Regions from separate parts of the Homo sapiens genome. Here region 2 is linked to region 1. The links come from fine-mapping of genetic effects on gene expression. A gene starts in region 1. The other region holds a variant in brackets. All regions are shown on one strand. Distances are between the middles of the regions. Region 1 holds the start of ABCD3 (ATP binding cassette subfamily D member 3). Region 2 overlaps ABCD3 (ATP binding cassette subfamily D member 3).

What was found.
Region 2: its variant is fine-mapped to the expression of ABCD3 in whole blood (TOPMed, PIP above 0.99).

The regions. Positions count from the first base shown.
Region 1 is chr1:94,413,829-94,422,176 of GRCh38, reverse strand. It overlaps ABCD3 (ATP binding cassette subfamily D member 3), which reads right to left and starts at 3,788. Exons shown (of 23, transcript NM_002858.4): 1 at 3,589-3,788. The coding sequence starts at 3,698. RefSeq lists enhancers at 3,197-3,336, 3,808-4,599 and a silencer at 3,667-4,046.
Region 2 is chr1:94,460,704-94,469,051 of GRCh38, reverse strand. It overlaps ABCD3 (ATP binding cassette subfamily D member 3), which reads right to left. Exons shown (of 23, transcript NM_002858.4): 3 at 4,179-4,277; 4 at 1,045-1,133. Among named protein-coding and RNA genes, the nearest start is that of ABCD3, 46 kb to the right of the region's middle. The variant C/A (reference allele first, on the strand shown) is at 5,123.

The DNA of each region.
Region 1 (8,348 bases):
CCTACAGTATCATAAAAGCAGAGGACACTTACATCAGTTTGGAAATCAGAAAAAGACAGAAAACACCTAAGACAAAGTGTTGACTGAGTCTTGAAGAAAAAGAAGTATCAGCTGGGCAAGTTGGCTCATGCCTGTAATCCCAGCACTTATGGTTGGATGAGTGGGAAAAGTAGGGAAGGACCACACCATGAATACAGAAAGTTTGTATTTTAGAGTAGATTAATGATTTTAATGAAGGAATATTATGATCATATCTGAGCTTCTTAAAAAGAGCTCTGGTGGCAGTGGAAGATGGATTGAAAGGGCACCACAAAGTTTCTTTCTAACATAAATGCAACAAAAATCTGATAAAGGATGCTGTAACAGTCACTTTATTCCAGTTATCCACTCCTACCCCCTTTCTAGGCTTAACACACATCCTTCATGAAGCCTTCCCCAACCCTTCCCAAACACATTAATCTTGTCTTTCTCAAAACTTCTAAGACATGTCTATCTGTACATTTCATTCTGCTATCAGTGTTTAAGTTTCTTTTCCCTAACAAGAAGGTAAGCTCCCTGAGAAAACAAGTCATATATTTTTGTAATACACACACACACACACACACACACACACATCTTATAGCTCCCAGTACAGTAATATAACATTCTGAAATAGACACTTCCTTTAAATAGCCCTCTTTATCCATGAGTAAAAAGATTCTTCTTTTCCCCATAAATAATAAAATAAAAGGTAAGATTAGGCAAACTAAGGTGAAAAAGTTAGCTTAGCAGTGCTGGAATCAGGAGTGAATACAAGCTGATCAGGAATGAATACAAAGGAACTTTCTGGTGGGATAGAAATGTTCTAATTTGTCATAGGGATGTGTTACATAGTGTATCCATTTGTTTAAAAAATGTACAACTAATATTTGTACATTTCAATGTATATAAATTTTACCTAAAAAACCTATAAAAATAAGGGGTGACAGGCAGGTTGAAATAGATGAAACAAGAATATAGAATGTTGTTGGTACTCCTTGGGTAAAGTGCATTGGGCAATCCTTGTATTATTCTATTTATTTTTTATATGTGTGAAATTTTCCACAATAAAAGGTCAGAAACACACACACATATATATGAGATTTAACTGAGTGAAAAAAATTACATTAACAAAAATTAAAAGTAACCCAGAACATTTAATTACTCATTCTCCCAATGTTTGGAATAATGTTACACTGTAACTTTTAAAGTGATTTTACTAGCTCTATTACCTATCCAATTCTAAGGGAATATATATTCTAAAACCAACCTACTATTAACAACATAGACAAAAGAAGGCCAAGTAGCCACAGTTTCCTTAATTAAGCACCAGATATTAAAATTAATCAGTTCTGTTACCAAAGATATTCAAAAGCCCACTCAAATATAAAGTTAGAATCTTCTAATCTTCAAACTGTGATACCAAAGGTGGTGACTAAAAGATATTTGTAAGCTTCTGGAAGTACAATATCTACAAAAATACACTCAATACCATTTTTAATGGTTTCAAAATAGTTCAATCATTTCACCTCAACAATTTAAACTTCATGATTATCTGCTCAGAATCTGCAATCTCCTCCAACAAAATACTGTGTAAAATAGAGATTTTCCCCACTCATCCCAATGCAAAAGACTAATAATAATCTTTTGTTCAGTACATCTCCTGCTAAAGAATTTAATCCCCACAAAAGCTCACAAAGTTTCTCAAAAAAAAATTTTTTTAGGCATTTTACAATGGCAAATGAGGAGCTAAAATTATTTAATAAGACAAATTCTATTACATTATTTTACTTCTATCGCTACTATTTCCCAATAGATTCTGTTTAAAATTTCCCTTAGCAATAATCTATGGTCTTACAAACTGGTTTAGTAGTTAGGTGGACTGTGACTGGATGGGGGCATGAGGAGAATTTCTGGGGTGCTGATAATGTTCTGTTTCTTGATCTGGGTGCTGATTACACGAGTGTGTTCTACTTGTAAAAATTCTTCAAGCTCTATGTGTACTATATGTATGTGGCATGTATGTGATACTATATCACATATACATATAATCATAAAAGTAATCCAGAACTTGTAGGGCTGTCCTCGAGTCCCCTCCTCCATATTAAAACACCTGTTCTATGCCCTGAAACACTTCTTTGCAAAAACAGAATTCAAGTTAAAGGACCTAACATCTTCTTTCTACTGGCATGTTCCCAGGTAACAGGTAACTTCTATTTGCAACTGGGAGTTCATACAAACCAACAGAAAAACTTGCTTTTTATTTTCCCAAATTAATCCTTTTAAAAGCAAACTGAATAGAAGAAAAATGAGTAAGCGCTGTTATTGCCCAGACTATGCTGCAAATCATTTTCAACTCTGTTAAATGGATTTAGGAAGGAAAAGAAAGATCATCACTTCAGACTCTAGTAAGATAAAAACAGAAGGCGGCTAGAAAGAACTTAATGGAAAGGGTACTATAAACTAGAAGTCTATTTGTGTTTTAGCCCAAATTTTACTACTAATTAGATATTGTAGGCAAATCAAACACGGGAGGCAACAGTACCTGCTCAGAGGAATGAATGAAATAAAATTCATGAAAGTAGTATGTCAAGATTTAATACGAAATATTCAATGACTGGCAAGAACGCTTGGGAAGTAGCCTTTTCTCTTTCACTTGTCCAGCAAATAAAAATTGCATGTATGTGACATACATACCTGTATGTCGCAACCGTAATTCAGCTCTCTCTTTTTTACTTTTTCTGAACTGATAACCTCCCAAAGTTAAATCTAAGCACTGAAATTCTCCCGCGGTGGAAGCAGTGGCGTGTCATTAAAAAGGAGCTTGATCCTCACCTAAACCACACTCTCATCTTTCACCTACAGAGCCCAGGAAGGAAAACATTTCCCTCTAAGTCCGACAGAACCGATCCAGCCTTTCCGGATGAAATGCCACCGACCAAATGTTCACCGACCAAAGGGTTCACCGACTCCAAGGGCTCACCACTTTAGACGGCAATCCTGCCAAGTGGACCGGGAATAGTTTCATAGAAGCCACCCTCGCGACTTTCAATAGCAGTTAGTCGGGAATCGAGCCAAACCTCGTCCAAGTGACTTAGACACCAGCCTCCAGCCTGGCGAATCCAATCCCCATCCTCAATCACACATCCACGTCCCCAAAACAAATCCTTCACGGTCTGAAGATGAGATGGCAAAACCAGAACACACCCAGAAAGTTGACACAGAAGGGGGTGATGTAGGGAAGGGGGTGGGGGACACACCGCATCCCCCTCCCACCCCCAACTGGAGGCCGCTGCCTGAGTGCTGGCTGGGCGCCGGTTCGCCCGCGGGCACAGAAGAATTCGCACTCCCGGGGTGGAGCGAGGTCGCCGGACAGGCCAGCTGGGACCGACGCCGTCGTGGCGGGGACTCGCGGACACCCTGACATTGAAGTCCCACGGCAGTCGCGGTCGGCCCTCTCTCCGCCCGACCCCGTCGGGCAAAGAGACCTGTCGGCCGGGTGGGGAGAGAGAGCGCGCGGGGAGCGCCCGCTCCAGCCCGGGAAAGCTGCACGGCTACGGGCCTTCTTACCCGTGCAGGCCGAGGGCGCGGCGCCGCTTGTGGAGCAGGCAGAGCAGCAGGAACGCGGCACCAGCCAGCGAGGAGTTTCGCGCCGTCAAGTACTTGCTGAAGGCCGCCATGGCACTGCCGGTACCAGCGAGCCGGCGAGGGGACGCGGCGGCGGCGGCGGCGGCGGCTACCTTACTGCACGCAGCGCGGGGGAGACTGGGAGGAGAGCAGAGGGCGGGGCCGGCCGCGCAGGACCGCCCCCTGGCTCGCGCCGCCGCGCCGCCCGCGCTCTGGAGCCCACTTTGTACTTTGGCCCGGCGGGAGCGCGCTCGGCAGCCTCCGTGGGCGGAACAGTTCCCGGGACGCGCTCTGCGCACGCGCGGACTCCTTCAGGGTCTCCGGAAACGCGGCGCGGAGGAGCTGTTGCTACTCAGCCCTGCGAGGCGTCAGTGCTGCCCCTGCCTCACCCCTACCCTCCCACTCTTCGCGCGCACACCCCGGCTTTCACAATAACTGGATGAGCGGGCCTGGCCTGCAGCGACGACCTAGTGGGCCCTGCCTCTCCACTCCCGCGGTGATGTACCGTTACCACCCTCTTAAAGGAGCCCAGGAAGGAGGCGGACGGCCCCGTCACAGAGCGTGTAGGGAAAACACAGCACAGTGATTATCAGGACGAAACCAAACAATCGGAACTCCGCAGAGGTGTAGGGAGATGTGAGGAGAATGACACAGATCAAAGAGCTTTTTCCAAGCCAGTATTTTCCAAACCGCGGGTTATAATCTCTAGCGCATTGTGAAATTGGTTTGGTAGATCGGGATCATCACCCTCCGTTTTTAATAAAATTGAGAATAGAACAAAATAGAAAAGTTTCACAGTACATCACGTAGTAAAGGAGTTGTTTAGAGAAATTTCGATTTCAGTGTTTTGCACGTATGTATCGCCAGCGGCGATGTAAAATGTATGCAGATCTGGTCAGAAAAAAGTTTGAGAAACACTGTTCTTTGCAAAGGGACATTCAGAAGTAACAATCGTGCGTTGTATTAATGCTGGCCTCACTCCCAGAATCAGAAGGGCTTTGCAGATTACAACATTCTTCTCCTGTCTGACCCTATGTTGCAGGAATTGTTATCGCCAGCATTGAGCCTAGCATATATACAGTAACAGTGAATCGCTGTTTTCAGCTGAGGAAACTGGAGAAAAGCAAGTGTGTCAGAAAATAAGCTCATAAAACCTCGCATAATGCACATACATATTAAAGTAGCCTACAAAGTAGTGGTGCTGTGCCCTAGGTGTTTTCTCAATATAAATGAGCTGTTGCCTAATACAGGTTATGAGGATCACAAAGACGAGGTACAATAATGGCATGCGTATAGAGGTGCTCAACAGTGAATTCTAAATTATGCAGAACTGAAGCTCCTACTAATTCACTATTTGTCATGTGGACATTTTCATTACCTGGAGGGACAAAAGGTTTTGGCCCTCTGAAAGTTAACTGAAAACCGCTGACATAAGGCAGATTAATAGAAGAAAAAATTAATAGGAGAAAAGGCATACAAATTTAATGTGTATACATGGGAGCGTTCAGAATGGAGACCCAAAGATACTTGGAAAATTGTCCATTTTTGTGTTTAGGTTCAACAAAGTATGGACAGCTATGTAGAAATGTGATTGGACAAAAATGGTATAATCTAATGCTAACAGACTGAGTGGGGACACCCAGCAAGGCCTGTCTAGATTCTTCTTGGCCTTCTGAGCACCATTCCTTCCTTCTGGGTATAGGGCAGGAATGGAATGGAGCTCTTAACAGCCTACAGTCAAACAAGGCAGGTCAGATAATTTCTTTATGGCCAGATTTTACAGAAAAAGGGGGAGGGAAAACTAGCAAAATATGTTTAGGCTTTTATGGCTGGCTTTAGGGGATAGAGGTTCTGGTTTCTACATCTTGTCTTGAGGAATAGGGATCCTAATATCTATGGCTAGCCTAGGGAAATACGGGACTGAGAGACAGGAGGGCCAGAGTAGGGCAGAGAACTTTTGCTACTGAGACCTTCATTTTGGAGTATTGTGTTGTGAGCCCCAACGACCTCACATAATTTACGTAATTAAGTATGCCTGGCACAGATAACACAAGGATGAACAGATCATGGAGATCATATTCTCCAGAGGCTGTTAGAGAAGAAAAACGTGTAAAAAAAATCAAGTATAAATGTGGTAAGTACTATATTAGAGATATGAACAAGGTGCTATGAGAACACAAACATGAAAATATTTAGTTTTGTCTAATGCTTTCAATAAAGGCTTAAGGCTTGACAAAGGTGATTCTGTAGCTAAATTCTAAAGGACCGCAGGAGTCACTCAGGAGGACAAAACAGGAAATTACTAATTCAGTAATAAAGTGCTAGAAAAGAGTTGGGAACCTTGTGAGAAAGTAACGGTATCATCTTAGAGTTTGTAACAGTGAAGGAAGTACAAGCAAGATTAGTCAAAAACAGTCTAGAAAATAGATTTCAAAACAGTCAGAGGAAAGATAGAAATGATCTATTGACAAAACATTCTAAAAGTTACCCTTGTTCAAGAAGCATGGGAGATTCTAAAAAATTACACTAGTTATTCGAGCTCAAATAATTTTAGCTATTGATAAAGCCCATCTGACAAAAATCACCAGGACCAAATCTGGAACCCATTAAGTTTATTAATTTGCTACAGCAAAAGATACTATACAGCAGAGGAATTGTGGCCATGTCTCAAAAAAAAGGAAGAAATAAGGAGTCATTATAGTATTTAGAGAAAGAGAGGAGTTTAGGTAAAATCTAAATAAAGCAGTGCTTGATAGGCCTAAAGCAAATCAGATCTGTATGTAATATCAAACCTGGGCTGAGAAGCAGATTCAAGATTCTAGTTCTTAGAAACATACATTTAAGATTAATGTAGAATATTGTGTCTGAAAATCCCTTATCTGAACTTCTGCACTGGAAATGGAGACTGCTTCTGTAACTCTAAGTGACTCAAAGAGTTCAAATCTGCCAGGCAAGAAAGGGATGTTCTGTTCTCACTGATAGAATCTCAGAACAACAAACTTTCTAACAGTCTAGGATTTTAGAGAACAAAATTCCTCAGCACTATGTCCTTTGATAATTAACAATGCAATTTTGCAAGTTCACACTTCATAATATTAAATAATAAAGAAAAACAGAAAATGTGATTTTATGGGGGAGATCTCCAAGAGCTCTGATTTTTAAAGAATTTGAGCTACTGAGAACAGGTAGGCAGGGCATAGGAAGTTAGTGAATCTAGAAAGCCTCTGGAAGAAATGTTGTGTTAGCCAGACTCCAAGATTGTCCCTGGTGATCATGGTGTCCTAATATTTATGCCCTCATGGAATTTCCCTCACATCAGAGCTGAGTTTTGTGACCAAAAGAGTATAATGAAGGTGATGCTATGTGACTTCAAAGGCCAGATTATAAAAGGCACTGTGGCTTCTGCCTTGGTGTCTTGGATTGCTTGCTCTTGGGGAAGCCAGCTGCCACAGAGAGCACTCAAAGTGCCCTGGAGAGGAACTGAGGCCTCCCACCAGGAGCCAGACCAGCTTGCTAGCCATGGGAGTGGGCCATCTTGGAAGCAGATCCTCCATCCTCAGTCAAGCCTTCAGGTGACTGCAACCTCATGAGTAATCTCAAACCAGACAGCTCAGCCAAGATGCTGCTAAATTCCTGACTCGTAGAAACTGTGGAAGGTAATGTGTTTATTGTATTAAGTCACTAAATTTGGGGGTAATTTATTATGCAGACACTGTGACCTTGAAAAACAGATGGAAAAAAGAGGATTCCGAAGAAGATACAACAGGAGCAAAGATGCAGAGACCGAAGCAGATTGAGGAAGGTGATTAAGTCTGATGTGGATGGAGGCTGAGGGAGGCATGTGAAATGAGAGAAAAGTTTGCAATGTTTAACTGAAGTCAATTTGTGGAGGGTCTGAAACACCAATCCAACCGGGTAGGATTTTTATTCTGCATGTAGAAAGGTGTATTGCAGGTCTGGGGAAAGAGTAGTGACCTCAGGATTTATTTAAGAAAGATCATGCTAGTGGCAGTGTGTAGAGTGGGCTGAAGGAGGAACCATCAAGCAGAGGGACCAGTTTGAACACATGAAATAGTCTAGGTAAAAGGTAGTGACCATGTGAGTCAGGGCAGCACAGATCAAATAGGAAGAAAATGACTTTGTGGATTCACATAAAATGGAAATAGGTGAAATAATTAATTCATAGGAAGAAAATTTTTACATTGATTCTGATATTGCCTTGCTGAGTGTCTAAGAGGGTGATACTATTTACCCAAGGTCGGAGACACAGAAGTGGTACATGCTCATCAGGAAAGGTAATGAGATGCAAACAAATTCCTTACTAGTTTCTCATCACCAAGATAAACTGCAATAGCCTTAGCATCTCACACAAACCCAGTGATGATATAAGCTCTGCCTACCTCTCTAACTCCTATCTTGGCACTTCTCCCCTCCTACAGATATATTCTACCCCTACCCCAGGAGATAGATGCCTGCTATTCACTTCTGTAGTCTTCCCTTGAATATCCTATTCCTTCTACCTGAATCCCTTCCTACCCTAACATCCTCACGTTCAACTCAGTTTATCCTTTAAAACGAAGCGTTCATGGTCTCCTACTCTGAACAGTCATCTGTGACCAGTCCCCCCTAACCCCTTCACCCCATTGCCAAGTTAATTATTATCTTCTTTGTACTACTACTGTTTCATATATAATTCTATTAAT
Region 2 (8,348 bases), 47 kb before region 1:
TATGTTCATGTATTACTTTTAAAGTTACATTCATATATTACTTTGATTAAAATTAAAAGGCACAGGACTGACCACAGGTTTCAGGGAGACTTGGGTGGAATGTGAGGGCCTACATAATTTACCCATATTCAGAAGTATGTAATTCAAGGCTTTAATCCTTATACATACAAGATTTTTTACTGTCCTAGAGAAATGAGTCAGAGAGCATGGTCATAAAGCATTCTTCCTCTTCCTACAAATCTTTAAGAAGCAGATCAATAATCTAAGAGAAAAAAACCTTTATTCCAAAATGTTGGGGCATTTAACAATTTTAAGTACTGTCATTCAAAAAGTTATTTTAGATTAAATACTTTAAGGAATTTTCTGACAAAATACTGCATACCAGGAAATAAAATTCCTAGCAAAAATGTTTACTCTGACATTCTAATTGGTATTATGAAAAATAAATTCTTTATTAACAGATAAATGGTAAATTGTTATAACCCAAGATATCCCAACTGACATTTTTTACGTTTTTACATTCAAAATTAGCAATTGCAGTGATTAATAATATGTAGAAAGACTATAATGAAAAAATATAAAAAGCACTATCACCAGATGCAGAAAGAAATGTCTAAGAATTGTCTTCCCTTCTAATAAACATGCTCAACGTGATTCTTTGAAATGCTTTGAAATTTTCCTCCAAATTATCTCATTAATTTCAAAAATCCAACTTGGTGGTTTTTTAGAATTCCCATTACAGCACTTATTATGCTGCATTTTAATTTTCTGTCTACCTGTCTCTAACTCTTGATAAACTGTCAGCTCAGCAAGGCTTGGTACAGTTTCTCCTAGTTGCTGGCATATAGACCCCATCACAGTATAGCACATTGCCTGGCACATGGGAAACACTAAGTATTTTTTAAGTAAATGAACAAACACATAATTTGACTTGGGTTATCTTTTACCTAACTTAGAATCTATTTGTTGCTTATAAAGATAATGCATAAATATGAGACAAATTAGCATTTCATACATATAGGAGGAAGGTGATTGAAAAAGTACCTTTCAATTAGTGTCCCATTTTGAATCATCCAAACATCACAATATGTTCGAGACACCAGCATAACAGCAATAAGTACCAAGTAACCTGTCTAAAATAAACCAGGTATAGTAAATTAAATACATGCATTTTAGAAAGTTCAAAGAAATATTACCTTGGTAACAATTTTTGGTTTCCAAATCTAAAGCTTTATGTAAGTTTCAATATAGTTGGCTGACATTTTTTCTATAAGTAATTTTAAATATAGTTTAAAGGGAACGCAAGAATATTATATAAATGAAAAAAGCCTCATAGATTCATTTAATCTTTCTCATTCAGAATTCAAAAGTGAATCCTAGGCAGGTCAAAGGACTTGCCTTCATATACCTAGTCAAGGACAGAAGCTGGGAATGTAACTTAGATTACCTAGATCATAGTGTATTGTTGATTTTCTTATATTTTGACATATAACTTTAACAAAGAAAAATGACAGTAACTGCACATATACAGTTATACAACTAACCAAAATTGAAGCCTAAAATTTTGCCTAGGTAGAATAAATTTGGTTTAATTTGTTAGAAAAATTTATAATAGTGTCCATGCCCTCATAGGGCTTTCAATTTAGTTATGAAGGGAAGAGTTACACATAAAAAGTAGCAGACAAATTTAGGCAAACATATTTGTATCATTTCATGTCCTAAGCTGTGGGATGGGAAGGTTTGGGGTAGCAAAAGACAGTTATGGCATTAGAAATATGATAAACAGTAAAACAAAAAAGAGAATGAGGATTAAAGGTAAAAAAGATGAAGGATTTAATGGGGGAAAAAAGGGATTAAAATCATATGAACTATGGTACTGTACTGAGTTTACACACATAAAATTCTCGCAAGCTTCTCAGTAGAACAAAAAGTGATGTTAAAAAGTGATGTTTAAAGAATATTACTTAAGCAATGCTGTGCAAGACAGATTACGAAGCAGGGAAAGTCAAGATGCTGGGTGACTGGCTGGGAATCAGTTATCTTTCTGTGAGATGAGAATCCTGCCACCCCAACCCCAAGTACACATATTTAAAGCTGATCTTAAATTTTCTAAATTGGAACAATAAGACAGTGACATAGAAGTTAAAGTAAGGGAAGAAGGCCTGCAGAGGGTGGGAAGCTGGCCAAATTAGCCCCTTCTACCTCCCTTACTAATTCCCAGGGACTCATCCAATGTTTCAAATTTGTTTTACATTCATTGAACCCCTGCAATAGTTAAAATGAACATTAAGCTGTTAACTGATTGGAAGGTAACATATGCATCTTTCCAGAGAAGCTTGTATTTTAAATAAGGATTCTTCAAAGGCAGGACAATTAGTTATGCCTGAAGAGTCACTGGAAATATTCACAAAAAAGATAAGCATTAAGCAATTTTTAAAAACATATTTGTTTTTGTTGTGGGGACGTACAGGATGTCACAGACATGATGTTGTAAACAAATGAAAGGCTGAGGACATAGGGCCAGATCGTAAAACAATGATCTCCTAAGCAGATGGTATTAAAAGGAAGGCCAAAGTCAGGTTGTGATTTACCCTATAAGGAAAATGAAGTTACATGTTTTGATTAGGATTTTAAGAAAGAATACAAATTGGAAAAGGAAAAGAAGCAAAAAGACCAATTAAGATATAATAATCCAGGTAAGATATAGTGAGAACAGTAGGAATGTAAAGGGAGAGAATAATTTATAAGAAACTTTAGGATACTTAGAAAGAACATTTATAATATAAGGGAAGGAGCAGATCTTAAAAGTGTGTGATCCCATTTTTAAATTAAAATATATGCTTGCACACAGGATGACTATATATCAAAACGAGTAAGAGGCTGATAGGTGCCAAAAAATAAATCTAGCTGCATTTTCTAATTTTCTTCAAGGAACATGTATTACCTCTGTCTAATTAGGAAAAAACAAGTGTCATTACTTTTTTTAAAAAAAGAATTTCTCAAGGGCAGAATCATCAGGAGATGATGCCAAAGTGAGGGAAAGAGCAAATCCAGCATGATGAAGGAATGTACGTTTTCTTTGGGAACTGCAATGCTTTTGTAACAGTTAAGTATAGGAAAAATTAGCAGATCCCAGTGACCAAAAAGGGTGACAAGGGGAAGAGGAAGAGCTGAAGGTAATGATACTTCTAGTTACAGAATGAGAGAATGCTGAGGAAGATGGAGAATACGGCATTATTTTAATAATCATTAAAAATGTTTATCAAATAATGAAGATAATCTTGATAAAAAAGCAAAGGAACGAATTATACAACTATTCGTATAAGCAGCTCACTTCCTGAATGAAATAACTGATGAATCCAGATATCATTTTGCATATCTTAAAAATATTTAATCAAATATACTCCACACTAATGTGACTTGTTAACATCTCAATGTAATAAAAGGGTTTGTCTTTTGAAATTTAATCTAGTGTTTATCAACAGTATTTAACTATAACAAAGCAACACCATTTAGGGTAGCTGTATGGCAGTACCCTAGCATTTCACATAAAATAAAATGAAATAATACTTCAGAAACAAGAGAAAACTATTTAAAAACTGGCACTGAACAAGGTTTTTTGTATGACAGGTGATGATTTAAAGACAAAAATTTAGTAATCTTCTTGACCTACAGAGAAAACATTTGACCTATAGTATAACCAAAGTGTTATGATTTTACTGTTCTAATCTTACATAACCTTGAAAGTTGAACACTTAATAATTTAATTTGGGTATCTGTCTCCACCCAAATCTCATGTTGAAATGTAATCCCCAGTGTTGGAGGTGGGGCCTGGTGGGAGGTGTTTGGGTCATGGAGGCAGATCCCTCATGGCATGGTGCTGTCCTCCAGACAGTGAGTGAGTTCTCATGTATCTGGTTGTTTAAAAGTATGTGGCACCTCCTTGGCCCTTTGCTCCCTCTCTCACCATGTGAGACACTGGCTTCCCCCTTCACCTTCAGCTGTGATTGCCAGCTTCCTGAGGCCTCCCCGGAAGTGGAGGAGATGCTGTGCCATGCTTGTACAGCCTGCAGATCCAGGAGCCAATTAAATCTCTTTTCTTTATAAATTACCCAGCCTCAGGTATTTTATTAAAGAACGGCCCAATATACTTAAGATTATAATTTCATAAGACTTACCTCTTTACAAAATGTTCTAGGGACCATGATTTTCAGAATCTGTATGAGCCTTGAGAAAAACACCTTGTCCACCACAGCTCGCTCCTTTTTCCCCTCTTTCTGCATTAAAAAAAAGAAGCCCTTTTAAGATAGCTATAACAAACATATCATAAAATTAAAGAACCATGTTTCATCTAAGTCAACATAAACAGCTATCAAGATAAAAACTGAATTTACAAAACACAGACTTGCATACTTACACTGCTCCTCATATTCAAACATGTTTTTGAGAAAACAATGTTATCTAAAAACTGAATAAGGAAGTGAGTTCTGGAACCACACAATTATCTGGGTGAAGAAAACTGCAAGCAGAAGAAATAGCAACTGCAAAATACCAAGGTGAACACCTGCAACGTGCTTGAGGAAGAACAAAATGGCCAACCTGGCTGGAGCTGTGAGGAAGGTACCATCACAGAGGACGAGGTCAGAGAGACAGCTGAAAAAAGGTCAAGGGTTTACTGAGTTTTGTATTAGCCACTTCCTGATTAACACCATATTTAAAAAAAAAAAATCCTGAACAGAATTTTGCCTGATATTAAATAGAGGAAACTTTTGGATTCCTAGATTTACCATTTAACATTTCCAATATACAGTCTGTCAATTCACTCTCTCTTCCTCATAAAATTCAAAGACAGACAAGGTTCTTTCACTTATGCAGCTCACATTCTAGCGGGAGAAACATAGACAAAAAATAAACCAATAAATAAATTATTACAGACAGACTAGACAGGGTCATGAGGGGAAAAAAAAGAACAGTTCACACAGGATGGTCTGAAAAGTCTCTTGACATTTAAGCTTAGACATAAATAAAAAAAAGCCATGTGATTATTTAAAGTGGGTAGCAGAGGGGAGGGAGTGAAGCACAAGGAACAACGAGCACAAAAATACAGTGTTGGAAATAAAAT[C/A]GGTGTGCACATTTCACAGCAAGATGGCAGTATTGCTGTAGCAAAGGGAACAAGAATGAGAGAAGTTTAAAAGGTAGGCAGGGCTTATAAAGGACAGAGCCTTGAAGCCACAGTAAAGATTGAGAGCTTACTGTGAGTGTAGAGGGATTTAAAAGAAGATAATCTTACCTCTCTCAAGAGTTTTTTCATTTTCACTAGCTCCATGAAAATGGAAGTACTAAACCATTTGCAAAGATAAGGAAACACGTGACGAGACTTACTACTCTTGGACTGTTTGGAAGGACAGGGGAAACTTCTTGGAAAAGGCAAGACACTCCAGAAAAACCCCAATTCCCTGACTAACCCTTTCCCCAACTCCATTATCACAGCTCACTTATCTGGCTAACTACTGTGCTCCTGACAAACAAATACCTGTTTGTATTAGTAGAGTAACGCTATTAGTTAGCTATAATGTAAATGTGCTTTGATTAAATAAATATCTAACTTGATGAGCCTTAAGTGAACTGTTTGGGTACTGAATTAGAATAATAATAACTACCAACTATGTGTCAGACACTGTGCTAAGGCTTTATAGACATAATCCTAAGAAATAAGCACTGAGTGCAGTGCAGAACTGTAGGCCAAAAAAGGAAGTCTGAAGGCACTGTGTTTATAGGGTTAGACTAGAAAGACTACAATAGGAGGAACTGGAAAAGAATCCACCTACCCTGCAACTGCTGGAACAGAGACTCAGCATTTCAGGTCTTTCAGACAAAGTTGCAAACCTCATCCTACTGAGTTACAGGCTCAGTCTACTTAATTCATACATGCTTACATTCATTCATTCAACAAACAACTACTTGATCCAAACCCTATTCCAAATGATAAGCACACAACAGCAAACAAAACAGACAAAAAGCCCCACTCACAGTCCAGTTAGTTGAACTAGCCTATTCTCCTCAAGCTAAACCTTACACATTCAACCTAATCTGTTTGTATTTTCCCCAAACCCAGAAAACATAGGAAGAAAAGAGTAAAGAAAAGGTGATACATATTAACTACCTTTTTAAAAAAAGAAGTTAAACTACTTGTTCTTCCTCCTATCGCCATCACCACTCCCTCCTCACTTCACCTTGCCTTACCTGTAGGCAACACCCTTCTCTATTGCTAGCTGGAACTTTAAGTGGCACAATCCTGAGGTGAAATGGACATCTGAGTTAAACAGAGGACCACCTGTTTCTAGCTACTCTAAAGAAATGATCTAAGACAAACAATGAGGAAAGTTAGAAAAAAAGAATTACAAGAGAGTAACGTTGAAACACTTTAAAATATTAGTTGCTAACTTGTATAAAATTCCTCCTCATTTTCTTCTGTTCCTATTGTCACTTTCCCTATCCTTAAACTGACTGAAACCTGATGGATTTTCATTACGTTTCAATCCATGAAAGGAACTAACTATATTCTTCCAAATTATCATTGTTTTCTGCAAAGGATCACCTGGACTGGGAGGCTGGCTCAGAAGGGCTGAATTCAAAGAGATGTCAGGAATCTTGATCACAGCAAAACTCTACCTGAAACCAATCTAAATAAGAGTAACTATAGAGGCAGTACATAATATTACTAGCCTTTCCTAAGAATTCATTTTAAATTCACAATGAACTTTTCCCACTTCCAAACTTTCCCAGTAATTTTTTTAAATACAAAAAAAGACCACTTTTCCCACTTCTAAACTTCCCAATAATTTTTTTAAATATAAAAAAAAGACCACTGTGGTGATATAAGTTTAACATGAACATTATAGAAAAAGCAAACAAATCATTAAAAGCTATTTGAGAAGTCGAAGTAATAATGCAACAAAGGAAAAAAGAAAACCTAAAATTCAAAAGGTAACAAAGGTCAAAGTACAATGAGAAGTTCCTATTGATACGTCAATCACCGTAGGTGAGACTGACTGAAAAAGATGTTTGAAATAGCAGTAAAATAAGAGGCCATGTAGTGCTGACAGAGTATAAGTATTCCTATACATTGTAGGGAAAAGTGAAAACTGGTACAACTATTATGTATCATTTATCAAAATGTAAAATGTACACTGACTGTAAAATGTAAAATAACCCAGTAAATTTACTTTCAGGAACTTACCCTACAAATATACCTGCACATATGCTTAGCCACACAAATAAAAACATCGTACTCGTTTATAATACCATAAAATTAAAAACAACCTGATGTACACCAATATTACATAAATCATAGCAAAATTATTCAATGAAAACTCTATACAACTGTAAAAAAGAAAGCAGCTCACATACACAGAAACAGAATATGAAAGAGCAGGTCTACAGCTTTAAACATGAAGTGACCTAAAAATTAGTATGCTGGAAAAAATTAGAATGATACATGCAATTCATTTTACACATGAATTTATGAAACTTTTAAATATGTAAAGTAATTCTAACTATATTGTTTATGGATACACACACATACACACACATGCCAAAATACAAAAATATGCATGGGAATGCTAAATACTGAACCCAGCACAGTACTTATCTTTATACATTTTGAATTTCATTATATTGTTCTCCAACTTTCTAATTAAATTCTTTTTTCCTCCTTAAAATTCACGTCTTATGAAAATTGCCTCTCCCCACCCTATCTCCATCACAAAGGATATAAAAAATTTCTACCAAAAAAATACGTTAAGTTGCTTTCCTCAAAAGTAACATATTCACTGTAGAAAAATTAGAAAATTCTGACGAGCAAAAATAAGAAAATTAAACCTACTGCCTTTGTTACATATCCTACTAGATTTCATTTTAGCACACGTGTGTACTTCCTATACATTTAACAAATGTGCTATCAGTGTGCATATTGTGTCCTTTTTATTGCCAATCACTTAATATAACCTAAATTTATCTTTCTCACACTATGCAACCAGCAAATAAGTATATGCTAAAATATTGTACAGAAAAATAAGAAAAAAATGAGTAAAATGAATCTAGCTGTCCTAGAACTTGCAGATATCCAATATGCAAATAAGAGATATGACTAAGTTCAGATAACTAACATTTGATTACTCAGATAGAACTTAGACATGAGAGATCACGGAGCTGGAGATATGCCAGAGAAGTGGACATAAGCACATCTTATCACATTTTTCAAAGACTAGGAAGGAAATATTACAGAGACTAAAGAACAACAATCTTGATGTCAATCACCAGGATATTCAGAGAACAGACACTGACAT